Regions from separate parts of the Homo sapiens genome. Here regions 1, 2 and 3 are each linked to region 4. The links come from fine-mapping of genetic effects on gene expression. A gene starts in region 4. Each other region holds a variant in brackets. All regions are shown on one strand. Distances are between the middles of the regions.

Evidence for each region. PIP is the estimated chance that this variant, and not a neighbour inherited with it, causes the effect.
Region 1: its variant is the best candidate, but not a certain one, in a credible set for the expression of GUF1 in whole blood (TOPMed, PIP 0.76).
Region 2: its variant is the best candidate, but not a certain one, in a credible set for the expression of GUF1 in adrenal gland (GTEx, PIP 0.77).
Region 3: its variant is the best candidate, but not a certain one, in a credible set for the expression of GUF1 in whole blood (TOPMed, PIP 0.86).

Annotation. Positions count from the first base shown.
Region 1 is chr4:44,700,200-44,706,568 of GRCh38, forward strand. It overlaps GUF1 (GTP binding elongation factor GUF1), which reads left to right. Exons shown (of 17, transcript NM_021927.3): 17 at 1-729. GNPDA2 (glucosamine-6-phosphate deaminase 2) reads right to left here. Exons shown (of 7, transcript NM_138335.3): 7 at 1,596-2,943. The coding sequence ends at 2,882. Among named protein-coding and RNA genes, the nearest start is that of GNPDA2, 23 kb to the right of the region's middle. The variant G/A (reference allele first, on the strand shown) is at 3,379.
Region 2 is chr4:44,778,382-44,784,750 of GRCh38, forward strand. No RefSeq gene overlaps it. Among named protein-coding and RNA genes, the nearest start is that of GNPDA2, 55 kb to the left of the region's middle. The variant TA/T (reference allele first, on the strand shown) is at 2,873.
Region 3 is chr4:44,462,050-44,468,418 of GRCh38, forward strand. No RefSeq gene overlaps it. Among named protein-coding and RNA genes, the nearest start is that of KCTD8, 16 kb to the left of the region's middle. The variant T/C (reference allele first, on the strand shown) is at 3,687.
Region 4 is chr4:44,675,452-44,680,451 of GRCh38, forward strand. GUF1 (GTP binding elongation factor GUF1) reads left to right here and starts at 2,969. Exons shown (of 17, transcript NM_021927.3): 1 at 2,969-3,336; 2 at 4,990-5,000. The coding sequence starts at 3,172. RefSeq lists an enhancer at 2,188-3,076 and a silencer at 3,148-3,307.

The sequences.
Region 1 (6,369 bases), 25 kb after region 4:
AACTGATTGAGGCAAACCTGCCTCCCATTTTATTCCTAAATAAGACAGCCACAAAGATAAAATTTGCTCACAAGGGAATTCCTTATGGACAAAGAACTCAAAGTCTTCACATGAAACAAATGCATAAATGATTGCTTTCTCTGTTTCATGTTTCACTAAGCCAGATTAAGGTATAACTGACTATTCCTCTACTCTCCTCTCACATGTAAATTGTATATTCAGTGAAAGGCTAATCAGAAACTCAAAAAAATGCAACCCTTTCTCTCTTACCTGCCTATGCTTGAAGCCCCCGCCCCTCTTCAAGTTGTCCTGCCTTTCAAGACCAATGTACACCTTACACATACTGATTGATGTCTCATGTCTCTCTAAAATGTGTAAAACCAAGCTGTGCCCCAACCACCTTGGGCACATGTGGTGAGGACCTCCTGAGGCTGTGTCATGGGCACACCTTAACCCTGGGAAAATAAACTTTCTAAACTGACTTGAGAGCTGTCTCAGATATTTTGAGCTTACAGTTATTGTGAAATCATTTTAATTATAAATTAAGTGGAGATTTACTTAAAATCATGTGTAGAAGTAGCCTGTGATATAGTCCTAGATACATACATTATCATCTTATGTATCTTCCCTCCCTCTTCCAGGTTCTGATAAAAACAGATGAAATCTGAAAGACCATGACAGTAGTATTTTGAAAATGACAGTATTTGAAATTAAAAAATTGTAAAAGTGTTCTGTTCTATCACTGCCAAAGGATAAGTTACAAATTGGTTCTTGGAACGTAATATGTACTATGTGCTTGCTATTTAATAATTTACCAGTCTTAGTCTTTTTTATTCAGACTAATTTTACCTTTTTTTAACCTATGACTCTTTAGTTATAGTAGTACAAAAAAGTAGTTTTAGTTATAGTTTTAGTTGTAGTACAAAAAAGCATTTTCTGTAAGCTTAATTTCTTTCCCCTTCCCGCTTTCCCAGTCAGATGACTTTAGTGATTTGGAGTTGTGTGCTTTATAAGTGCATTCCTCAGAGGACTTAATATTACTAAGATTTTAGCAAACACTGAAATATGTTTAAACACTGTTATCAATATTAAAATAGCACCGTTTATTGACTTTAATATGTGACAACCACTGTGCTGAGCTATGTATGCTTCCCTTATTCAATCTATGTAAAAATTTTGGGGAAGTAGCTGAGACTTTTTTATTTCCCTGACAGAGCTGGGATTCAGTGGTTGGTTTCTTGAAAAAGCTAGGTTCTTTGCCTAACAGCAGCTTAGCTCCTCAATTTAGGGAATGAAAGCAGGAATGAAAATGGCCAGAGTTTTCGCTCCTCAGCTTGTGGAGGAGCTTGAGTACATGAACCTCAACTAAGCCCCTAACATCAAGGGAAGGAAAATGGAAAGGAGAATTTTTAGACCTTTAAAGCAGAGAAATTACTGGTGAATCATGTAGCACAACAGGTACCTTTAGCTTTTTCACTGTGATGCTGTATGACTTTCTAAGGTAGTCAGCATAGTTTGTAGTAAATGATTCTTATTACTGGAAGTGTAAGTGGAGTGTTACTCACTAGTTATTTAAAAAACATTTATAAGGCTATTAAAACATCATCTGGAATTAAAGCAGCATAATTTACCCCATCCCCCACTTTTAACCATAAAACCCTATTACCAATTTTATTTCATTAATTTATTTGCTATTTTAATATTTTAAGAAACTACATTTTAATCACATAGACAAGCAGATAAGTAAGGCTTCTTCTACCAGGTGGGCTTATGAAATGCAAAATAAGCAAAAGGAGCATTTTTTTGCTCCCCACAGAGGCAAAGACATCTTTTAACCTAACTCTCCTAATGCATGATGGTAACAAACCCAAAATGAATGCAGGTTCACATGTACTATAATTGTTGGGAGTCGAATGCATGTATTCTTCAGGTTCACTTCTGGAAATTTAGATAACTTATTTATTACACGCTTTATTTGAGTTAAAGATAAAAAACAATATACTTTTATGTAAATTGCTATGGCAATGTAGTTTACAGTAATTCCTTTTATATATACTTCGTATTATTCTTTTAGACATTTTATAAGGAATAAAGCTAATTGTATATTAAGTTTAACAATAATCAGAAAATATTCTCCAAAAGAATTTCCTGAAGTGGCTTGCTAGGTATAAAGCTCATAATTGTCAAGATACTTATATTAGGGACATGAACCCAAGTCGTTAAATAAAAATAAGATATTTGTAAAAAAGTGCTATAGAAGAAGGTGCACAAAAAACATGCACTTACACATACTTTCCAAAAGGATGTAAACTGTACTTTTAGGCACTGTCATCTCTTCAAATTTCCTTTACCAATGATATATAGCACAATTTTTGATGTCTAGATGGTGCTGTAGGAAGATGACTAAGGCAACCACGTGCAGAAAAGCATGTGTGTGATGCACAGAAAATATAAAGATTGCATTCCAAAAGTGAAGGTCTGCAATGATAGTTTGTTATCTGAAAGGTTTGGAGTGTCTTGTCATTAAAAAATGAAATATACGCCACTGGAGTCATATCACAAATGGTGCCTGATGTGGACACTCTACCTTTAAAATGACTTTTTAAACAGGCAGACATTTCTATGCTGTTTTATAGGTGGCTATGTGACTTCAGTACTTTATAATAAATAGCCAGTCAATCTTGAGAGCCAGCTACTTCTCTTAAACCCAAGTACAAGATATAAATATTCAAAATATGGAATGTTTAACATAGAGACTCGAATGAAAAAATGACAATCTTCAAAATTCCCCATGTTTTGTCATATTGCATAGCTGAAAATTCATCTACTACTTAGTAAAAAGTGCTCTGTTCATTCAAGCTGAATTTTGCTCCAGTCTCCTTCAGTTTCCATCTTTCATACTGAATAGTGGATCCACAAGTTTATTGTGCACATGCATTAGACCTTAAAGAAAAAAAGCACAGTTCTAGTTGTTTTTATTAATTTTGAACTATCTCATTTACTTTAGACAACAAAGTATTTTTTATAAGACACAGTAAGCCTGTTTAGTTCCCATCTTGATATAGTCAAGTTTATTGAAAAAGTACAAATAGAAATGTTTCAGAATGTCTTAAGTTTTATCTACCTAGCAAATACCAATTTATAATTATGTAACAGTGCAGATCTAGAATGTGTACAGGTACTTTGGGAGTAACCAGAAGAGCATTTCTTGTCTTCAAAGAGATTAAGCATGACAAATTTGAATACTGACTTAGATAATAGGTTTTAATTATATCTAAAAGTCTATGTTGATATTGATCCTCTGGCAGTTCCTCTACTAGACTCCAGCCAGGGGCTCAGAACTGCTGTCTCACTCTTAATACATTACCCTATCCATTC[G/A]TCTGGTAAATTACTTTCCAATAGTTTGGCATGTGTATTTATGACAAAGGTTGATTACAAATTCTACACTGAGGGAGGGTTACTAAAACAAGACAGAAAACAACCTGTATTAAATCATTTAATTCAGAATAGAAATTACGATTTTAAATCCGGTAGATTATAACTTTCATTTTGTAATTGGTACATATACTTGCAGACTGCTCTTAGCTATGGAAGCTGCTTGGGAAATAGCTGATCTTCCAGTTACTCCTGTTTTAATGCCTCAGTACTATATTTCTTTGGGGAGAAAAAAGTTCTAAAAAGACTGACCCAGTTAATGAACCAGAGATTTTATATTTTGGAGGGTAAAGAAATGAGTTAAGTTTTCCAGGTATTAAGAACATGGGAGGGTGGGGAAAGGCACTTAATGCGGTTTTGCAGGAAATGGGATTACTGGATTGGAGAGATAGGTTGCTTGTTAGTAAACAGATGTTCCTTGTCAGAAAGGCTGCAAAAAGGACTCTAAAATCCCAGCTTTGAGAAAGACCCACTTTTAAGGGACAAGCAAAGAGTACTGGGAAGTGTTTGTGTAGTAGGAGAAATTCTAACCATAAGAATGGGACTCTAAAGGAGGGAAGGGGGAAGCATTCCATTCACTAGTCCTGCAACTGCTCAACAGCCTACTTGAAGGTCACCTGAAACTTCATGTCCAGTAGGAGAGGGGACAACAAAGATAAGGGTAATATCAGCTGTATGATTTAGAAGATGCAACATTTTCCAGAGTATCACTTTGTAGAGGATCGTTTTTCTACTTAAATAGTATTCATCTGTCATTTGCTAACAACTTTGATTACGGAAAGAATACACAGAGCTTTAAAATACATGCAAATTAAAATATCAGTAAATATTAAAAATTCAACTCCTTTATAAAATTTTTTTCTTTACATTGGATATATCTTTTATACATCAAATAGGACTGCTTCCAAACTAGAAATAATTATTTTGAAAATTCTATTAATTGCTTTTTAGATATTAAGTCAAATATTTACTGTGACTTTAGGTAAAAACTGACAACTTTCTACATACGAATTTTATATAAATAAATAATTGCTACTTAAGTCAAACAGAAATAATTCTTCTGATAAAAATGCACCAGACTTCCTGAAACGTTACCAGAAGAAAGGTTAAATGTCACAGATTCTAACCAATGTCTATACAAAGTAACTTTTATGGTTTTGACTCAAAATGAACTCATTCTACCTTTGTCAAACTACTGAGGTGGAGCCTAAATACAAAGTAAGAGAAAAAAATTCATGATGATGATGTCATATACTAAAAATCAAAGCTGTTCTATTTAAAAAGCAAAAATGAAAAGCGAGAATGAATAAAACAAATCCCCACGTACTAAACTTGTTGTCTTGTGATTAACTTGTATCTTTCAAAAGGTATATACCGTTATATAGGTATATATTGAAATAAACTTGCATTTACTGACAATTTTTATTGTTTTGGATCTAGTTAACCTAGATCTTATCTAGGCACTAAATAAAACCCTTTAAGATTCTGGTCAGCACTTTTTAGTGATGACAGAAGAAAGGGTAGTGATGTGAATGGAATTTGAAGAGTTATGGATGACAATTATAGGAATTTACATCCTCCAGTATTTTGATATACTAGTAACTCAATGGAGGTATGAAAAGTATACAAACTACATTTGAAATGTGTTTATTTAAGAATATTCAATTTCTCTACCCTTTACTAAAATGCTGTAAAATGAGGCCCATATGTAGCCCAGAATGTCTAAATTCTGTCTTCATATTGAAGGAGGTATCCTAACAGGCTGATACCCTGAAACCTCTTCAGAAATACAGACAGCTCCAAAGTGGAAAATACTGTGTCCTCTTGATGCAGTGCAGCTATCCTCTCACGAATGGTCTGTTTCAAAATTTTTCAGAAGAGCTTACAATTAGATGAACTAAAAGAACTAAATACATATAAACATCTACCACCCTTCTATTTTAAATTATCTAACATATGTCGATATACCTTTTTTGGAAGCAGTGATTATCATATGGGAAAAAAGCAGATGGAAATATGGTTTTGATGTAGATGGTATCATACCTAGAGTTTATTCTGGGAGGCAGTATAATAGAATAGACAAAAGCCTGCATACTCCAGAGATCAGCCTGATTTTGATTTCTATTACCCAGCTCTGCCCAAATATGTGCTGTATGACTTTGGGTAAGTAGCTTAACGTCTCTGTCTGTTAAGCCTATTAATTTAAAAATGGGACTATGAATACCCATTTCATAACATTTTTGTGATAAGTAAATCAATAAGTAAAATGCATTTAGAATAGTGCCTGGTCATAGAGATACTGGCTGTTATTAAATATCTTATTAAATATTCACCAAGATATAAAAATCTGATAAAAACCTAATTGTGACAAAATTAGATTAGTACAGGGATTTATCTGGGACTTAATGAGGACTAGAAAATGGCCATGTTAAATGAATCTCCTTAAAACTGGAATTAAAATTTGTGGATAGTGAGGATTCCTTGTAGTCAAGGAATCTATTATTTGGGATGAAATCTGAAGGGTTACATGGGAAAATAGAGTTAAAACTCCATCAAATGCTCTTTTATTCACAAATCAGAAATTTTTCAGTTTTTCAGTTTTTCAGTTTGATATATTTGTGGCTTGGTAAATTAGTAATTTAAATGGTAAAAATATAAATGACTAGAAATAATCTAAGTGTTAATAAGGAAATGTTTAAATAAATTATGATTTATGTACTTAACTATCCATTAAAATGCTTCCAAATATTTAGTAAAACAGGAAAATGCTCATGAAACATAAGTACAAATACAAAACTATATACAAAGCATGATCAGCATTTTGTTTAAAAATAGACTATTTTCAGTGCTTGCCAAATGTCAGTTATTTGTATAACACCTTCAAGATATTTGCCATATTCACACATATACATGAAATATGAGTTGGTTTTCTTT
Region 2 (6,369 bases), 100 kb after region 4:
ACTCTGCCTTATGCCCCTCAAATTCTTTCCTCTGAGGAGGCAAGAATAGAGGTTGCTGCATACCAGTATGGATTCACTGCCCTTAACAATGGTGAGCATAGACTGGGGAAAGAGACTACCTAAATTGAATAGAATAGGGTGGGCATATGCTGATTATAATTATATTTGCTATTTATATTATATTATCTAATACCTACCTATTGTGTTATTGGTTAAAAATTTCTTCAGAAATCATCTCCCCATTCATTCATATAGTTGCAGTGAGAATTGAACTATTATTGTTATGTAATTTTATTCATTTCCATGGTTGATAGGGCCAGAGATGAGACCATTTGAGTAACTGAGGCCATTCCCTGGAAATACAGGTGAAAATGGAAGTCATTTTTTCCTTGGTTCCAAGATTGTAATACAGGAGTCCCATGCATTATTGGTTGGTTGTTTTATTGCATGGACAGTGAAGGAAATGAAGCTTGTCTGTGGAGAGGTCATAAAACAGGGAGATCTATAGAGAGACACATGAAAGAGACGGACAAACGAACTGATCAGTGGAGCTCATTGTTCCAATTCTTTCCTGATGTTTAAAGCTTAAATTCTTTCATCTTTCCTTATCTACTCTTGAGGCCTCCTGGATAGATGCTCTTGTGCATTTTTCTGTCTTGAAGGTGATCTGCTATGGAATCTCACTCTAGCATCTCACTTTTCTCAGAGACGAACCTTGCTTTTGGTTAAACCTCTATTAACTATCCATTAATTCTATCAGTTGCTTGCTCTTGGAAAATTGATCTGACAAACTTATTCATAGTGAGTTGTTAATAGACCAATGTATTTTCACATATCTGGTAAATCAGAATTTTCCAGAAAGATATTACAATTTTCTATTACTTTGTTATACCAGTTATTTCAGAGAACTTGAGGCTGACTGAGCAAAATGTGAACCCTTGATAGAATCTGGACTGGCTTCTTCCTAATTTGTCATTTTTCATCTCTACCATCTCTCTCTCTGGACTTGCTGCCTCTTTCTCTGTGCCTCCTCTGTGTCACTGCTTTCCTCAGCTGCCTGTATGTGGCCCATTTGAGGTGATGGGGGCCTATACACAAAGCTGACAAGTAACTTCCATATTTTGTCAAAAATTTAAAAATCAACTCCACTTGAACTCTATGGAGCTTCCTACTTACCATGATAAAAATAAATCAGAAAAACAAAAACATTCCCTGGCTACAGGGACTTGGCGTTATAACAGACATATCAAATTCACATGCATAATCTCTGGCCACATCTCCTACCATCCATTTCTCTCCTACTCAGAGCCAACCTGCTAAGCAGGTTCTTCCCTCAGAAATGTATATGGCTTACCCACTGCATTTGTTTTCTAGGGATGCTATAATAAAGTACCACAAAATAGGTGACTGAGAACAGCAGAAATTTATTTTGTCACAGTTTCAGAGGTCAGAAGTCCAAAGTCAAGTGTTGGCAGTGTGGCTCTTTTTGGAGACCCATTCCAAGCATCTCTCCTAGTTTCTGGTGTCTTCCAGCAAGCCTTGGCTTGTAGATGTGTCACTCTAATCTCTGCCTCCATCTTCATATCACCTTCTTTTGTGTCTCTGTGTCTCCCCATCTCCTTCTCTATTCTCTTATAAGAATATCAGTCATAGGGTAGAGAGCCCACCCTAATCCAGGATAATCTCATCTTGAGAATTTTAACTTAATTATGTCTACAAAGACCTTATTTCTAAATAAAGTCATATTCCTAGGTAGCAGGGTAGGACTTGGACATAACTTTTTTTGGGGGAGGAGGCACTGTCAACCCACTATACCTCTCCTCCTCACTCTTATCATATCTTCATTTAAATGCCATCACAAAAAGAGCTTCCCTGACCATGCTATAAAAAATAAACTCTCATGCCTTACTTAATAACAAACCTCCTCACTCTGTGTCTACTTATAGCTTGCTATGGCCTAACACAACTGCATGATACAATTCAATTATAGCTCCACTGCTAACCAACATAATCTTTCAGTATCCCCTCTTCAATTTGTTGACAGAGAAAAAAATCTAATTCGTAAATGTATTCATTTTTTCCTGGCCATGACTCATGTGCAAACAGGTGGATTGGCTACCCTGATATCAGGTACTCACTCTTGGTCCAGTTCCAGTGACTGGAAGTATGGATTTATATGAGGAAACCAGGGTCATGTAGGTATATAACAGAGAAATTCTCTTAGCAGAAGAACTAGGCATGTATAATATTATAATTATGTAACTTTTTTTTCCCCTGAGATAGGGTCTTGCTCTGTCATCCAGGCTGGAGTGCATTGGCATGAACACCGCCCACTGCAGCCTTAACCTCCTGGGCTTAAGTGATCTTCCCACCTCAGTGCCCCTACCCCCACCCCCCTGCTAGTAGCTGGGACTATAGGCACATGCCACCACACCTGGCTAAGTTTCTAATTGTTGGAGAGGGGTCTTGCCATGTTGCTCAGGCTGGTCTTGAACTCCTGGGCTCAAGCAACCCTCCCACCTTGGCCTCCCAAAATGTTGGGGTTACAGGTGTAAGCCACCATACCCAGCCTTGTTTTGACTTCTTTAGTGAAGTCCAGTTTAAATTAACTACAAAATGAGATGAAAAGATTTATCATTTTTCTTACTTAACAGGTGACAATAAATTCCTTCCCCTCTCTGTTCCCCCATCCCTCCTTTCTTTCCTTCCTTCCCTTATAGATATGTACACGCACACACACACACACAAACACACACAGTCTGTAAAGTTGCAGTTAGTGAATTTTAGTTTTTCAGAGTTAACCATGCAATAAACCAATGTTGTGGTCTCTAGTGTTTACTCGGCTGTTTGTAGGCTGGTTTCATCTTATTAT[TA/T]TTTTTTTTTTGTATTTGCCTTATCTTTCTTCATCAGAAAATATTTGGGGATAGCACAATAGAAAGAATATTTGGAGACCAGAAACTTAGATTTTCTGACTACCACCAATTAGCTGTGTCTGATTTATATTTATATCTGATAAATATTTACATTTAATATCAACAGGAGGGAAATTTGATGAGTCTAATATGTAAAATGTATGTTTATAAAATTGATCAATTGCTCCAATATGAACCACTGTGGGTCCAAACTTTTGAGTAGCAATCCAAAAATGAATAAATTTTTAGTCAAATAATTTATAACTTCTAGAAAATTAAGGAGAAATTTTGGCTTCAAAGAAGAATAACTTTTTTTTTCTTTCTACTGATATGAAGAAACTATTCCTTCCATGAGTCCTCATGGAGAGGCACTATATAAATGCAATAAAACGCTTCTTAGTTACATCCTGAAATTAACTACAGTAGTGGTTTCTGTAATGATTAAGGGAATGGCATCTTAAATTGGGTTCAAATTTTCCTACCACCATTTATAAGATGAATGGGCTTGAGAAAATTCTTTGTTGGTTTAGTTTCCTCATTGTTAAAATATTGAAAACAGTAGGGTATAACTCAAGTTTTTTTTTTTTTTTTTGTGAATAGTAAATGAAATCTGATGCACGATTCTTTTTGTTGTTGTTGTTGTTGTTGTTGAGATGGAGTCTCGCTCTGTTGCCAGGCTGGAGTGGTGTAGTGGGTGCGATCTCGGCTCACTGCAGCCTCTGCCTCCCGGGTTCAAGTGATTCTCCTGCCTCAGCCTCCTGAGTAGCTGGGACTCTAGGCATGTGCCACTATGCCAAGCTGAGTTTTGTATTTTTAGTAGAGATGAGATTTCACCCATGTTGGCCGGGAAGGTCTTGATCTCCTGACCTCGTGATCCACCTGCCTTGGCCTCTCAAAGTGCTGGAATTACAGGTGTGAGCCACCGCTCCCGGCTGCATATGATTCTTAGAATGGTGCTGGGCACATAGTCAACACAAAATATTAAGCTATGCCTGTTACTGAAATGCAATTTATTATTTTAAAAAATTCTCAAAAAATAATGATAGCCTAATGTCAAATTGAATTTCTTTCACAGTAAGTTTTTGGTCAAGCCAAAAGTTTCAGAGTTCTTTGACAATCATACTTAACCCAATGAGATATTTCATAGTAGATGAATGAGTTTATCTGTTCTTCAGATAAGAATTTACCTATTCAGATAATCATCTATAAATAGTTTCATTCAACATAGTTTGTGAGAAGTATTGATCAGTATTGATTTTGTGGTTATACTCTGACAAGTACTTGGAGTACAGGCATTCTGAGTTGTTGATTAAATGTAAAACTAGTGTTTGATATTTGAAAGGAGTAAAAAAAGATTTAAAAGCGAGAAACTTGATAAAGACACATCTTATAGAAACACTCTTTTTCTGCATGGAGTTGGGCTGAGGCTACCTGTGGGAAATATTAGTGTTATTGTTAAAATGTAATCTGAGGCTTGACCCAGTATCTAAATGAATGTGCAATTGAAACTCACAAATTTTAAATCAGAGAGCAGACGTGCAATAATTTTACCTTGGAAAGTTTTGAAAGCAGGTGTAAACAAATGCTCACCTCAGCCATAAATAAAAACTCAGTGAAATATTTATAGAATCTTTAACCTTGAGCAATATTCCTTTCTTGTAGATGCTCCAAATGTATGCCAAACTAACTGAATGGATTTAATGTATGGTGCAGATTTATTGATTAAGGACCATTTAAGAGTTAGAGAATATATATCCAAAACAATCATTTTAGTTACAGAATATTTTATGGTACAATTTATGTTTGAAATTACTTTGGTGGCTATCTGTAGAAGATTGTTTGAAGGCAATAGTGAAATCAAGATGTGGCGGTTAATTTTATATGTTAAGTTGACAGGGCTAAAGAATGCCCAGACAGCTGGTAAAACATTATTTCTTGGTGTTAATATGAAGGAATTTTTGGAAGATATTAGCATTTGAATAAGTAGATTAAGAAAGTGGCCCTCACCAATGTAGATGGGCATAATCCAATCCATTGAAAGTCCAAACAAAATTAAAAAATAGAGAAAAGACAAATTTGCTCTCTCTACTTGAACAGGGTCATCCATCTTCTCCTGTCTACAAACATTGGCTTTCCTCATTCTTGGGCCTTAGATTCGAACCATAACTTACACCATCAGATCCCTGGTTCTCAGGTCTTCAGGCTTGGTCTGAAACTATACCACTGGCTTTCATGGCCTACCAGCTTGCAGATGGCAGATAGTGGGACATCTCAGCCTCCATAATTGTGCAACCCAATTCCTAATAAATGAATATATTCCTCTATATCTATAGGTATCCTATGTGGTCTATTTCTCTGAAGAACCTGACTAATATACAGAGATAAATTAGGCTGCTATAGCAGGAGTATAGGTGAGATGCTTATGGCTGAACGTGAATCAGTTCAAGGATTTGTGAAAGCTCCTAATAGGACACCTACATGATTCATACCCAATCTTAATATTCATATCTGCAGGTTTAGCTAATTCTGCCAAGGCATATGGGGAATAAAAGTTAAATACAGTTAAAAAGATATTTTATATTTTAGCAGTGGATATATGCCTTGACAGAAGAAATGTACATTTTAAAACAAACCATACATACCTTTCCAGGGAACTGAACAGGAATCAGAAAGAAAAATTTTCAGTGACATGAGCTAGGTGACAGTTCCTCTGTAGTTGACACAGATAAGAATGGCCAAACTAGCCCTCTTTTTTGCTAATTCTATCTCTGAATGCTGAAGATATAAAAGTCCACAAGACTCTGAAAGTGAATAGATGATTCCTCTGAAGTCCAAGTCTCTTTCTGGAAAATAATATTAGTTAAAAAAAAAACATGTTCTTTGAACGTCACATTTTAGGGAATCTATTATACTAAAATTAGGAAACTTCTGAATCCATATATTTATAGTGACAACCTGGCAATATTAAGAGGTATTGCAAATACAGATCACTCTCTCAAAGCAGATGAGGTCATGTGTGCAAAAGTATTAATTTTAAATTTAGAAGTTTATCAAGAACTATGAAGGATCTGAGATTTTTATTCTACCTGTAAATTAACAAGTTAGCTTGCCACTGTTTCACGGATGTCACCAGCAGACATGGAATTTTATTTTTGTTCAAAGACAAAGGATTGTATTACCCTTGGCACAGCAGGTAGCATGAATTTCAAGTTTCATTTTTCCCCTTGCTCTTACCCACACTAAGCCCCACAGGAGCAATGTATAGATGGGTCAAGGTGGATGCTGTGCCCACTGTGTTAGTATCACAGCTGAGAAACCTCATGCTTAGGAAACCCCAATGTATTATAAGATGGCTGAAAGCAAACTTGACCAATCTTTGCTCTGAAAGGAGACATTATTTTTATTATATTGCACAGAAAACAGACCTGCACTCTGCCTCAGAGGTAGATAATATCTC
Region 3 (6,369 bases), 210 kb before region 4:
AAGGGGGAGGAGTTAGTGACAACTAGATGGACAGTGATATCATTTATACATCTTCACATACTCAGTGGCAACAATGACTGTATTTTATTCCTGCATAGCATGTGCCAGGCACTGTTGTAAGCACTTTGGATATAATAAGCCATTTAATCCTCACAGGAATCCTCTAAGTATTCTTATCATCTCCACTCAGAATTAAACTGATGCACAGTAAATTAGATGACTTGACAAAGTTCACACAGCTAGCAAATGGTGCAGTCAGCCAAGGGATCAGATACATGGGGCACAGTCCAGGAACATTTCATCCCTGGAGCTTCCAGTTGCCCTCTCCTAGTAGAGTCAGGGACAGTATCAACATTCCCAGCATCAGGGTATGAGAATATACACAGAGTATTGGCAAATAGGGAAGCTCCTCTGACACTCAGCATCCAGAGTTTCATTGGAACTTAGTCATATACACATGGTTGGCTGCCCAAGTGACTGATCTCAGTCTCCAGACCCTCTCAAGTTTCAGCTGATCCCATATGACTCAGAGCCCCCTTATGAATGATATTATTATACTGTCTGTGACATAGTTTGGCTCTGTGTCCCCACTCAAATCTGATCTCGAATTGTAATCCCCATGTGTGAAGGGAGGGACATGGTGGGAGGTGATTGGATCATGGGGATGGTTCCCTCATGCTGTTCTTATGATAGGGAGTTCTTACAAGATCCGATGGTTTAAAAGTGGCATTTTCCTCTGGCTCTCTCTCTCTCCTGCTGCCGTGTAAGACATGCCTTGCTTCCCATTTGCCTTCTGCCATGATTTTAAGTTTCCCAAGGCTTCCCCAGCCATGCAGAACTGTGAGTCAATTACATCTCTTTTATTTACAAATTACCTGGTCTCAGGTAGTATCTTAATAGCCATACAAAACTGGACTAATACATCTCCTATAGCCCAGGACTTTCAGGTAAACGAAAATACTCTTAACAGGCAAGACATTACAAGGGCTTAGATAACCTCCTAAGAGCCGAATAAGATAACCTCCCAAGAGCTGAACACAAAGGCCAAACTTCTCTTTGGGCAAGATTAAATTCCTTACTACACACAGGTGAAATTAATAATACATTTTATTTAGCTCAATATATCCAAAACATTATCATTTCAACATATGATCAATATAAAACATTATTAAAATAGCTTATATTTTTTCTGTACTAAGCCTGTGAAATGCTGTGGATATTTTACCTTTACAGCACATCTCAACTTGGACTAGCCACATTTAAAGTGCTTTGTAGCTGCATCAGGCTAGTTGGTAGTCTACCAATGAATGCAGCTCCATTCTTTCCTTATTCTTGCTGAATCTAACAAAGGTTTATATATTTATCCTGTGGGCATAATTATCAGTGTTTTCTAATATATTTATTTATTATTTTAAGTAATAATAAGAATTACTATTAGGTAATTTCTTATCACATTTAAAACTAATGTTTAAAATAGAATATGCTTTTCAAAAACCAAAACAAATCAACATCAACGAATAATCTTTTTACCCTCCCATTTGAAGTCCGAGTTTCTATTCCTTATCTATACAGTCTTTGCTTCTTTGATGTACTTTCATTACTTTTAGATTGAATTTCACCTTATTCTTAAAGTGACAATTTACATGTTTAATGATCTTCCTCTTGTCACTTATAATTCAATTTTCTATTTTCAGTGAGCCTGATTTTTGTGTGGGATATAATGTCTCTTCTCTTCTGATTGCATCTTAGGCAATGCAATGCAATTTGGACAAGACTTCAGGGAATCTCCCAGTTATTATTTTTTTGTGTGTGCAAATCCTCCCCTTACTAAAAGGGATGTTTGACATAATTTATTTTTATCTTAGTCTGAAGACATTTCAAGAAGTTTTTGAAAACCTTAAAAATATCTAAACCCTTCCTAATTTACCACAAAAACTGACCTGGAAGCTCTATTATCTATTACAGAAAATATTTTTTCCAGTATTCTCCAGTTGCAGTGCAGCACTTCAAAATGTACATTTAAACTACATTTTAGAAACACATTATAGAATAATATGTGTTATTTAGAATGGCTTTGTATATGAACATAATTAAAAGAGCATTTTAAAAGGCACTTTAATAGTAGCTATTGAAATGCCAAGCTGTAAAGGTCAGAGTCTGTCTACAAGTGCCTTAACACGCCTTCTTAGCCTCCTCTCTTCATCTGTCGCATGACCTCCTGTGGTGGTGGAGCACATTGTGGGCTGAGATGCACCTTAATTATTTTAGATTCATCCTTTCTTTATTAAAGTTTTACAATATTACAGTCTCATATTTTCCCCTTGTCTTCTCCCTTCAATGGTCTTAGAATCATACTGTTTCTACCCTGCATAATAGGTACCTCTCCATCACAGAAGCCATTTCGTTTGAAGTTGATGCTGTATCTTTTTTTGTTGTTGCTTTAGTGCCCTTTCTGTCTGTCATCATGGTCCTGCTTTTTATTGAGTGTATCTAACATAGATTCTTCCTACCTAAACATGGAGGAGAGAGATTTTAATTAATTCATTAATTTTGGTCTAGATATTAGCCCCCTTTGCCTAGAAAATTAGTGCTTTTTTTAAAATAAGGAAGGGCTGCATTTCCTCATGAGTGTGTGTGTGTGTGTGTGTATGTGTGTGTGTGTGTGTGTGTGTTTATATGTGTGTGAATTGATATCCCAGAAATATATCAAAACCTTTTAAAGTTCTTCCCATTTTCTTAACCATTGACATATCTGTTAAGCAACAGATATGCTGCTTCTTTAGTTAGGACTTTTAAGCTCTTTGTCCTCATGAGGTGAAAATGTTATGTGTTTCTGTCTTTGTCCCTTGGTCTTCTAACATTTATGAATGAATAATCAGTGCTGCTTGATATAGCTGGAATTCTTGCTTTTTCCTACTAAAACACTGAGTTACTTTTTCTCCCTTAAATGTTACCTTAAGGGTTTCCTTTCCCTTTAAGGCCATAAGTAATTCTTTAAACAATTATATGATTTGTTGAATTAGAATATAACTTCAAAATAAACTGTATTTTACTGTAAATTAGTAATCTATCAACGGATTTTACCACCAACCAAATCAGTATCTTGACCACATATACGTGAAACAGAGCTAGGTGAATTTATAACTGATACATCTCTAGTTACAAATATCCCTGGACAATTAGTGGCAACTATAAGCAACTGTATGCCCAAATTGGAAAATCTAGAAGAAATGAACAAATTTCTAGACACATATAACCTACCTAGATTGAACCATGAATAAATCCAAAACCTGAACAGACCAATAACAAGTAACAAGATCAAAGCCATAATAAAAATTCTCCCAGTAAACAAAACCCTGGGACCCAAAGGCTTCACTGCTGAATTATACCATTTAAAGAAGAACTAATACCAATCCTACTCAAACTATTTTGAAAAATAGAAGAGAAGCAGATACATTCAAACTTATTCTACAAAGCCACTATTACCCTAATAACAAAACCAGACACAGACACATCAAAAAAAGAAAACTACTGGCCAATATTTCTGATGACTTTTGATTCATAAGTCTTCAGCAAAGTACTGGCAAGCCAAATCCAGTGATACATTAAAAAGGTCATTTATCATGACCAAGTGAGATTTATCCATGGGATGCAAGGATGGTTCAACATATGCAAATCAATCAGTG[T/C]GATACATCATATCAACAGAATGAAGGATAAAAACCATAAGATCATTTCAATTGATGCTGAAAAAGCATTTGATAAAATTCAACATTTCTTCGTGTTAAAAACCCTCAAAAAACTGTGTATAAAGGAATTTACCTCAACATAATAAAAGTCATAAATTACATACACATAGCTAGTATCATACTGAATGGGAAAAAATGAAAGCATTTACTTTAAGATCTGAAACATAACAAGGATGCTCACTTTCACCACTGTTATCCAACATAGTACTGGAAGCCCTAGCTAGAACAATCAGACAACAGAAAGAAATAAAAGGCATCCAAATTGGAAAGGAAGAAGTCAAATAATCCCTGTTTGCTTGTATATTATCCTTGATGATATGATCTTATATTTGAAAAAAGCCTAAAGATGCCACCAAAAAATTTTTAGAACTGATAAATTCAGTAAAGTGGCAGGATGCAAAATCAATGTACAAAATTTAGTTGTGTTTCTATATGCCAACAGGGATCAATCTGAAAAAAGATATAAAAAAGTAATACCATTTACAATAGCCACAAATAAAATTAAATACCTGGAAATTAATTTAACCAAGGAAGTGAAAGCTTTCTATAATGAAAACTATACAACATGGATGAAAGAAATTGAAGAAGACACCAAATAAATGGAAATACACTCTATGTTCATGGATTGGAAGAATTAATACTGTTAAAATGTCTATACTACCCAAAGCAATATACAGATTCAATGTAATCTCTATCAAAATACCAATGATATTTTTCACAGAAATAGAAAAAATATGCTAAAATATATATGGAACCCCAGAAGACCCAGAATAGCCAAATCTATCCTAAGCCAAAAGAACACAAATGGAGGAATCACATTACCTGACTTCAAATTATACTACAGAGCTATAGTAATCAAAACGGCATGACACTGTCATAAAAACAGACATCAAGACCAATGGAACAAAATAGAGAACCAAGAAACAAATCCATGAACCTACAGTGAACTCAAGAACAAAGGTGCCAAGAACATATACTGGGGAAAAGATAGTCTTTTCAATAAATATTGTGGGAAAATTGGATATCCATATGCAGAAGAATGAAACTTAATCCCTATCTCTAGCATTATACAAAAATAAAATACAAATGGATTAAAGACTTAAATCTAAGACCTCAAACTATGAAACTACTCCAAGAAAACACTGGTGAAACTCTCCAGGATATTGGTGTGGGCAAAGATTTCTTCAGTAATACCCCACAAGCACAGACAACCAAAGCAAAAATGGACAAATGAGATCACATAAAGTTGAAAAGCTTCTGCAAAGCAAAGGAAACAATAAACAAAGTGAAGAGACAACCCACTTTATCAGAGAGAATATTTGCAAACTGCTAATCTGACAAAGTATTAATAACTAGAATATATAAGAAGCTAAAACAAACTCTGTAGGAAAAAAATAACAATCCAATTTTAAAATAAGCAAAAGGTTTGAATAGACATTTCTCAATAGAAGGCACAGATGGCAGACAGATGAAAAGGTGCTCAACATCACAGATCATCAGAGAAATGCAAAACAAAATGACAGTGAGATATCATCTCACCCTAGTTCAAATGGCTTATATCCAAAAGACAGGCAATAACAAACGGTAGAGAAGATGTGGAGAAAAGGGAATCCTCATTTACTGTTGGTGGAAATGTAAATTAGTACAACCACTATGGAGAACAGTTTGGAGGTCCTGTGAAAAACTAAAAATAGAGCTGTCATATGCTCCAGCAATTCCACTGCTGGGTATATACCCCAAAGAAAGAAAATCAGTATATCAAAGAGGCATCTGTACTCCCATGTCTTTTGCAGCACTGTTCACAATAGCCAAGATTTAGAAGCAACCCAAGCATCCATCAACAGATGAATGGATAAAGAAAATATGGTACTTATACACAATGGGATACTATTTGACCATAAAAAACAATGAGATTCAGCCATTTGTAACAACATGAATGGAACTGGAGGTCATTATGTTAAATAAAATAAGCCAGGCACAGAAAGACAAACATCTCATATTCTCATTTATCTGTAGGATCTAAAAATCAAGACAATTTAACCTATGGAGATAAGAGTGCAGAAGAATGGTTACCAGAGGCTGGGAAGGATAGTGGGAAAGTCGAGGGAGGTGAGAATGGTTAATGGGTACAAAAAAAATTAGAAAGAATGACTAAGACCTAGTATTTGATAGCACAACAGGGTGAGTGTAGTCAAAAATAATCTAATTGTCCATTTTAAAATAACTAAAAGGGTATAATTGAATTGCTTGTAGCACAAAGGCTTTTTTCCCTTGAGGGGATGGATACCCCATTTTACATGATATGATTGTTATGCATTACATGCCGGTGTACAAACATTACGTGTACCTCATATATACACTTCCTATGTACCCACAAAAACTAAAATATAAAAACATTTTTGACCAACAAATATCCATGAACACTTATAGAAATGTGAATTAGAAAGCTGTATCTTTCTGGAAAATACTCCTAACATTATGACGTATTTAAATAAACAAAAAGTGAATAAATAAAAAGGGTCACTTAGTAGCTAGAAGGTATAGCCAAACTAAAAATTTAATCAAACAAATTTAAAAACCAGAAATTCTGTGTTGATGGTTATGGCAGTAACATTGCTTTTGA
Region 4 (5,000 bases):
GTGTTTTTCCGCATTTGTATCCTTGCTCAGCTGAGCCGAGTTTACTGGAGTGGTTAAGGGTGCAGGCTCTACAGCTGGACTGTGTGGACTCACAGCCCTAGTTCATCACTAACTGTGACTCTAGACAGTTATTTAAAAAACGTTGGCCACATTTTTCTTGGAAATCTATGAAACAGAGATAATAAGAGTGCCAGCAATAGAGGGCTCTGTGAAGATCGAATGAATTGATACAAAGTATGTAGAATAGTACTGGGAACTGAGAAAATGTGTTATGCTGTTGATTATTCCTCTGCTTAAGTTCCATTTATTTCCTTGGATAAAAACAAAAAACTGCCTATCCTTCGAAGCACATGAAAGATACCTCCTCTTTGAAGTTCAGTCACTATACCTCCTGCTTCTTCTCAAGTTGAATAATAAAGAAACTTGTGCAAAGATATTGCAAGAGATGAGCTTTAGTTTCCAAAAATTTGGATTCAAATTTTTTTTTGCATTTATCTATCATGTAATTTATCTATCATGTAATTTTAGACATTTTGCTTAATTTGTTTGAGTTTCCACAGCTAGTATATAACCTGACACAGTGGAGCTCAGTATTTTTCTAACAAATATGTTTTTCCATTTGTAGGCTGGGAAACATAATGTCAGCCTTATAAGATACTGCAGTTTTCTAAAGTGTGGGACAAATTCCTGTGGAGGCACCAAGATAGATACAGACATGGTATCAAGGATACTGTGTTATTCAGATAAAGTTTTTCTTTCAACCCTATTTAAATGCTTCTTGCTAGGTCAAAGAGAAAAATCTCAGTTTGAGGCTAATATTTTTAAATTCTTTTCTAATATCTGCTAATCTCCCTTTTGTAATCCAGACAGACCAAACCTACAATTGAATCACATTTTTTATTCACTACAGTTATATTTACTGTTACTCTTATGACAGCTCATCATGCTTTCTCCATTAATGGTATCTACGTTTTCTTTTAAAAAGAATTCATTTACATATAAAGGTAAGTTAAAGAAAAATATAAAGTACATAATATCGGTATGAGGATTGACAAAGATTCTTGACCAAACTCTAGCCTGACTCTTCTAAGCCCTCTTATCAGCAAAGCCTCAAACTTGCCTATAAAAACTACAGACCCTCAGCACAAATGATTTCATCCACATCCTTCCCCTACCGGTTTGCCCACACATTAAAAGACTTGAACAAACTCATATAGTTTATAACAGCTCAAGGCTGCATCTCTAAGATGAAGCCCCCTTAAATTTCTGTCTGAGAAAGCTCAAGACTGACAAAATAATTTATTTGTTCCAGCCAACATGTGAAAGTAGCACTCATTTCCTAGTGTCTGCGGGAAGGGTAGGAGCCTTATTTCCATAAGCAACAGTTTACAACCCAGATGGATTTCAAATGGACCATTCTTCCGCCATTGTTTTTTGTAAATTTCCGTTTCCCTGACTTTGATCAAGCCCAGTTGTTCTCTTTCCCTACTCCCGCATTCTCCTTTTAAAATACAGTCGCCTCTGGACAAATTGTAGTTTAGTTCATTCTGGATCTTATTCCCGATTGCATTAGTATATCACTATAATAAAAATCTGTCTTCACCACTTTAACTGGTGTCTGCCTTTATCTTTGACAGGATATGGTGAAAATTAATGAGGGTAATTGTGCAAATTATGGAAGTCTGGGCAACATTGAATATAAATTATTGTGTTTACTTCAAGATAGTTGTTAAATTCATTCTCTTACAAGTGTGACAGAATTAGTCGTCTATCAAGTACTGTTTTAATTCATAAAAGTTCCAAGAAAGGGCCAGGCGCGGTGGCTCACGCCTGTAATCGCAACACTTTGGGAGGCCGAGGTGGGCAGATCACGAGGTCAGGAGTTCGAGATCAGCGTGACCAACATGGTGAAACCCCGTCTCTACTAAAAATACAAAAATTAGCCATGATTGCTGGCGCGCGCCTGTAATCCCAGCTACTCAGGAGACTGAGGCAGGAGAATCGCTTGAGCCCAGGAGGCGGAGGTTGCAGTGAGCCGAGATAGCGCTACTGTACTCCAGCCTGGGCGACAGAGCGAGACACCATCTCAGGGGGGAAAAAAAAATCCAAGAAAGAACTGAGTCTGGTACAGAATTCTTGATCCTAAGAAATCCTCCAAATGAAGAAACTTTCAAAGGCTCTGGAAACAATACGAATGATTCTGTCTTCAGTCACAATGATGAACTGAACACAGCTGTCATCTCCCTCCTTCGCACCAAATTCTGGATATTCCAGAAAAGCGCAAGAGAAATAGTGGGAGACAAACACTGGATGCAATCCTCCTATCACCTGTTTTATCCCCCATTCTTACTTCGTCAGAGCTCATTCCATGAAGTGGTAACTTGATGACGATGGAAACATTGGGGGTCCAGCATGGAACTTTTTCCCACCTTTACTTCTTGCCAAAACCTTCCTGGATTCAGTATTGCAATCAATGTTATGGCCCGTTTCCTTTCAGATGCACTTCAAGATTAGCTCTGTCACTGACAACATGGGGAATACATTTCGACCTCCAGATTTTAAAAGTGCCATTATTATTTTGCCATTAGGTAGAAGGCTAAGTCTCAACGTTGTGCTAATAATAGCATCTTTAAGTCCCTGGACTAAGACCTCGGCTCCTGGTTCGGGAATCAGACTGCCTGGGCGGCACTCCAGGCTCCACAGCTCCCCACCTGTGAGCTCCTGGGCAAGTCACTCGGTCCGGATTTCCAGAGGTAGTTTGGGGGAACTGACAGTACACACACCACAGGGCAGTAGTAAGAAAGAGACAATGCAAAGGAATTGGCACAGCACTCAGCAGACAATATAAGCTAATATGTACTCTGTCTACACCCTGCGTTTTAGGGAGTCAATCGAAAGCCTCCACTCACGTGACCACTCCACTACCCGGCGCCAAGACGCGCTGATGTCACGACAGCGTGCGGCGTGCAGACGTCGGCAAGCTGCGCCGCCGCTTCGGGTTGCTTCCGGATCTGGTACTTGGGCAGAGCTCCCCGGGGTTCATTGTCTTCGCTTCACAGGATCTGTTTGAGTCCTGTCCACCGGATCCTACGGGGGGTACCTTCGAAAAAAAACGGGCTATGCTGCTGTTGCGTGTGGGTACCCTCTCCTGACGCCTCCGCCGCCCGGGTCATGTGGACCCTCGTGGGTCGGGGCTGGGGGTGCGCACGCGCTCTCGCGCCACGAGCCACTGGGGCCGCGCTTCTGGTGGCCCCGGGGCCCCGGTCCGCGCCGACCCTTGGGGCTGCTCCAGAGTCCTGGGCTACCGACAGGCTCTACAGCTCCGCAGAATTCAAGGTGACTGCCCCCTGGAATCTGATTTAGCCAAGTTTTCAAACGTTGGAGTGCCCCATGCGATCTTGGACATGTATAGGGCTTTCTGGGACTAGCTCTGAACCCTGCTTGCAACTTGGTACAGGGAGGCAGAGCGGAGAGTGTGAGCACTGCTCAGGTTCCCGACCCTCCACTCCTCACTAGTGTGACCTTGGGCAAGTCACTAACTTTGTAGGTTTTCTCATTTTCAATGTCAAATGTTGATTTGTTTACGCGAGCCACTGGTCGAAGTGCTTTGCGTTTATTCATCTATTTAATTCTAAAAAGCCTACTAAGCAAGTTGCTAGTAAATATTAATATAACGTCCATTTTCCTGCAAATTAAGTAGCTATGTGGCCTGGGCAAGTTACTACATTGTCACTCTCCTACTTCATTTGTTGAATGCAGAACTGATCAAACATCCAGTGGCTAATTTGTGAGATTTGTGTGATGTGAGAAGTGGACTTTTTTAGACTAATACCTAGAATGCAGGAAGTTCTCGGTCTGTCTTTGTAGTTTTATTTCATTCTACCTCAGCCAGAGCAAACCTGTGTAATTTTGACTCTGGTGGGAGAGGGTGGGAGGTTCAACAACTCTGATAATTGTGAATGGATACATTTTAGTCAGAAAAGTGAAGTGACTGAAGGCAAGCTATAAGTAGGCAGAAAGACAAAACCTTAAATTAATCAACTTTGGCCCTAATATGCCTGTGTTTTTAAAAATGGATTTATATTGCAATTCGAAGTATAAAGATGGTGCAATTCTCTATACCTTTTGAACTGAAGGGAAAGAAAATCTACAGGGCAAACATCAGAATTAGTTTTTTTTCGGCAGACTTTCAGCTATAATTGTGCTTTTATTATCTGTCTTTATGGGGCTATTAAAAAACAAAGCTCACGTGAATTTTATATTTCATTGTAATTTCATGGTTTTGCTGATTGTGAAATATGCAGTTGATTGGAAAAAAATAGAGTACAAAAAACTGGTATATTTTGCTTGATAACAATTTCTAGCAATTTGTGATGTGTTTCAGTAAAACGTTAAAGAAGATGTGTACACGAAAAACCAGGAGTTCCATTTTAAAATATTTTTAAGTTTTAAGTGATAAGTCTTTTGTTGGATGTCATCTTTTTTTCTTTCTCACCAGAGAAGCTGCAAAGTAGCAAAATTGTATTTAAAATAAAATTTTGAGGCTCCATTAGAGACACAGATTTTTAAATAAATCTGATTCCTGATTAAATGTGTGATAGGAGCAGAAAATTTATCTTCTTTCAGCTTTTCTGTAGCTCCATTGCCTCAAAAGTTTTACTAGACAAGGTATTCTCAGGCCTTTAGAAGTTCTAGGTGTCTCATGTTCTCCATTCACGATAATAAATTCAGTTCCTGATTGGCCCTAAAAATTGTGTAGAAATGTTAAGGGATTATGATTTAGCTGTATAGTTACCTTTGGCTATTAAACTGATGTTCCTTGTAATATGAACTTAGCCATACATGTCTTTTTCTTAGAATAATAATATAAACAATATAAATGCTAGAAATGATATTGTTCAACGATTAAAAGAATATTCTTTGAATTGGTATACTTGTTTGATAGTATGCCAAATTTATACTCCTAAATGTGGTATTTCCCCTTTCTAGGAAAAACTTGA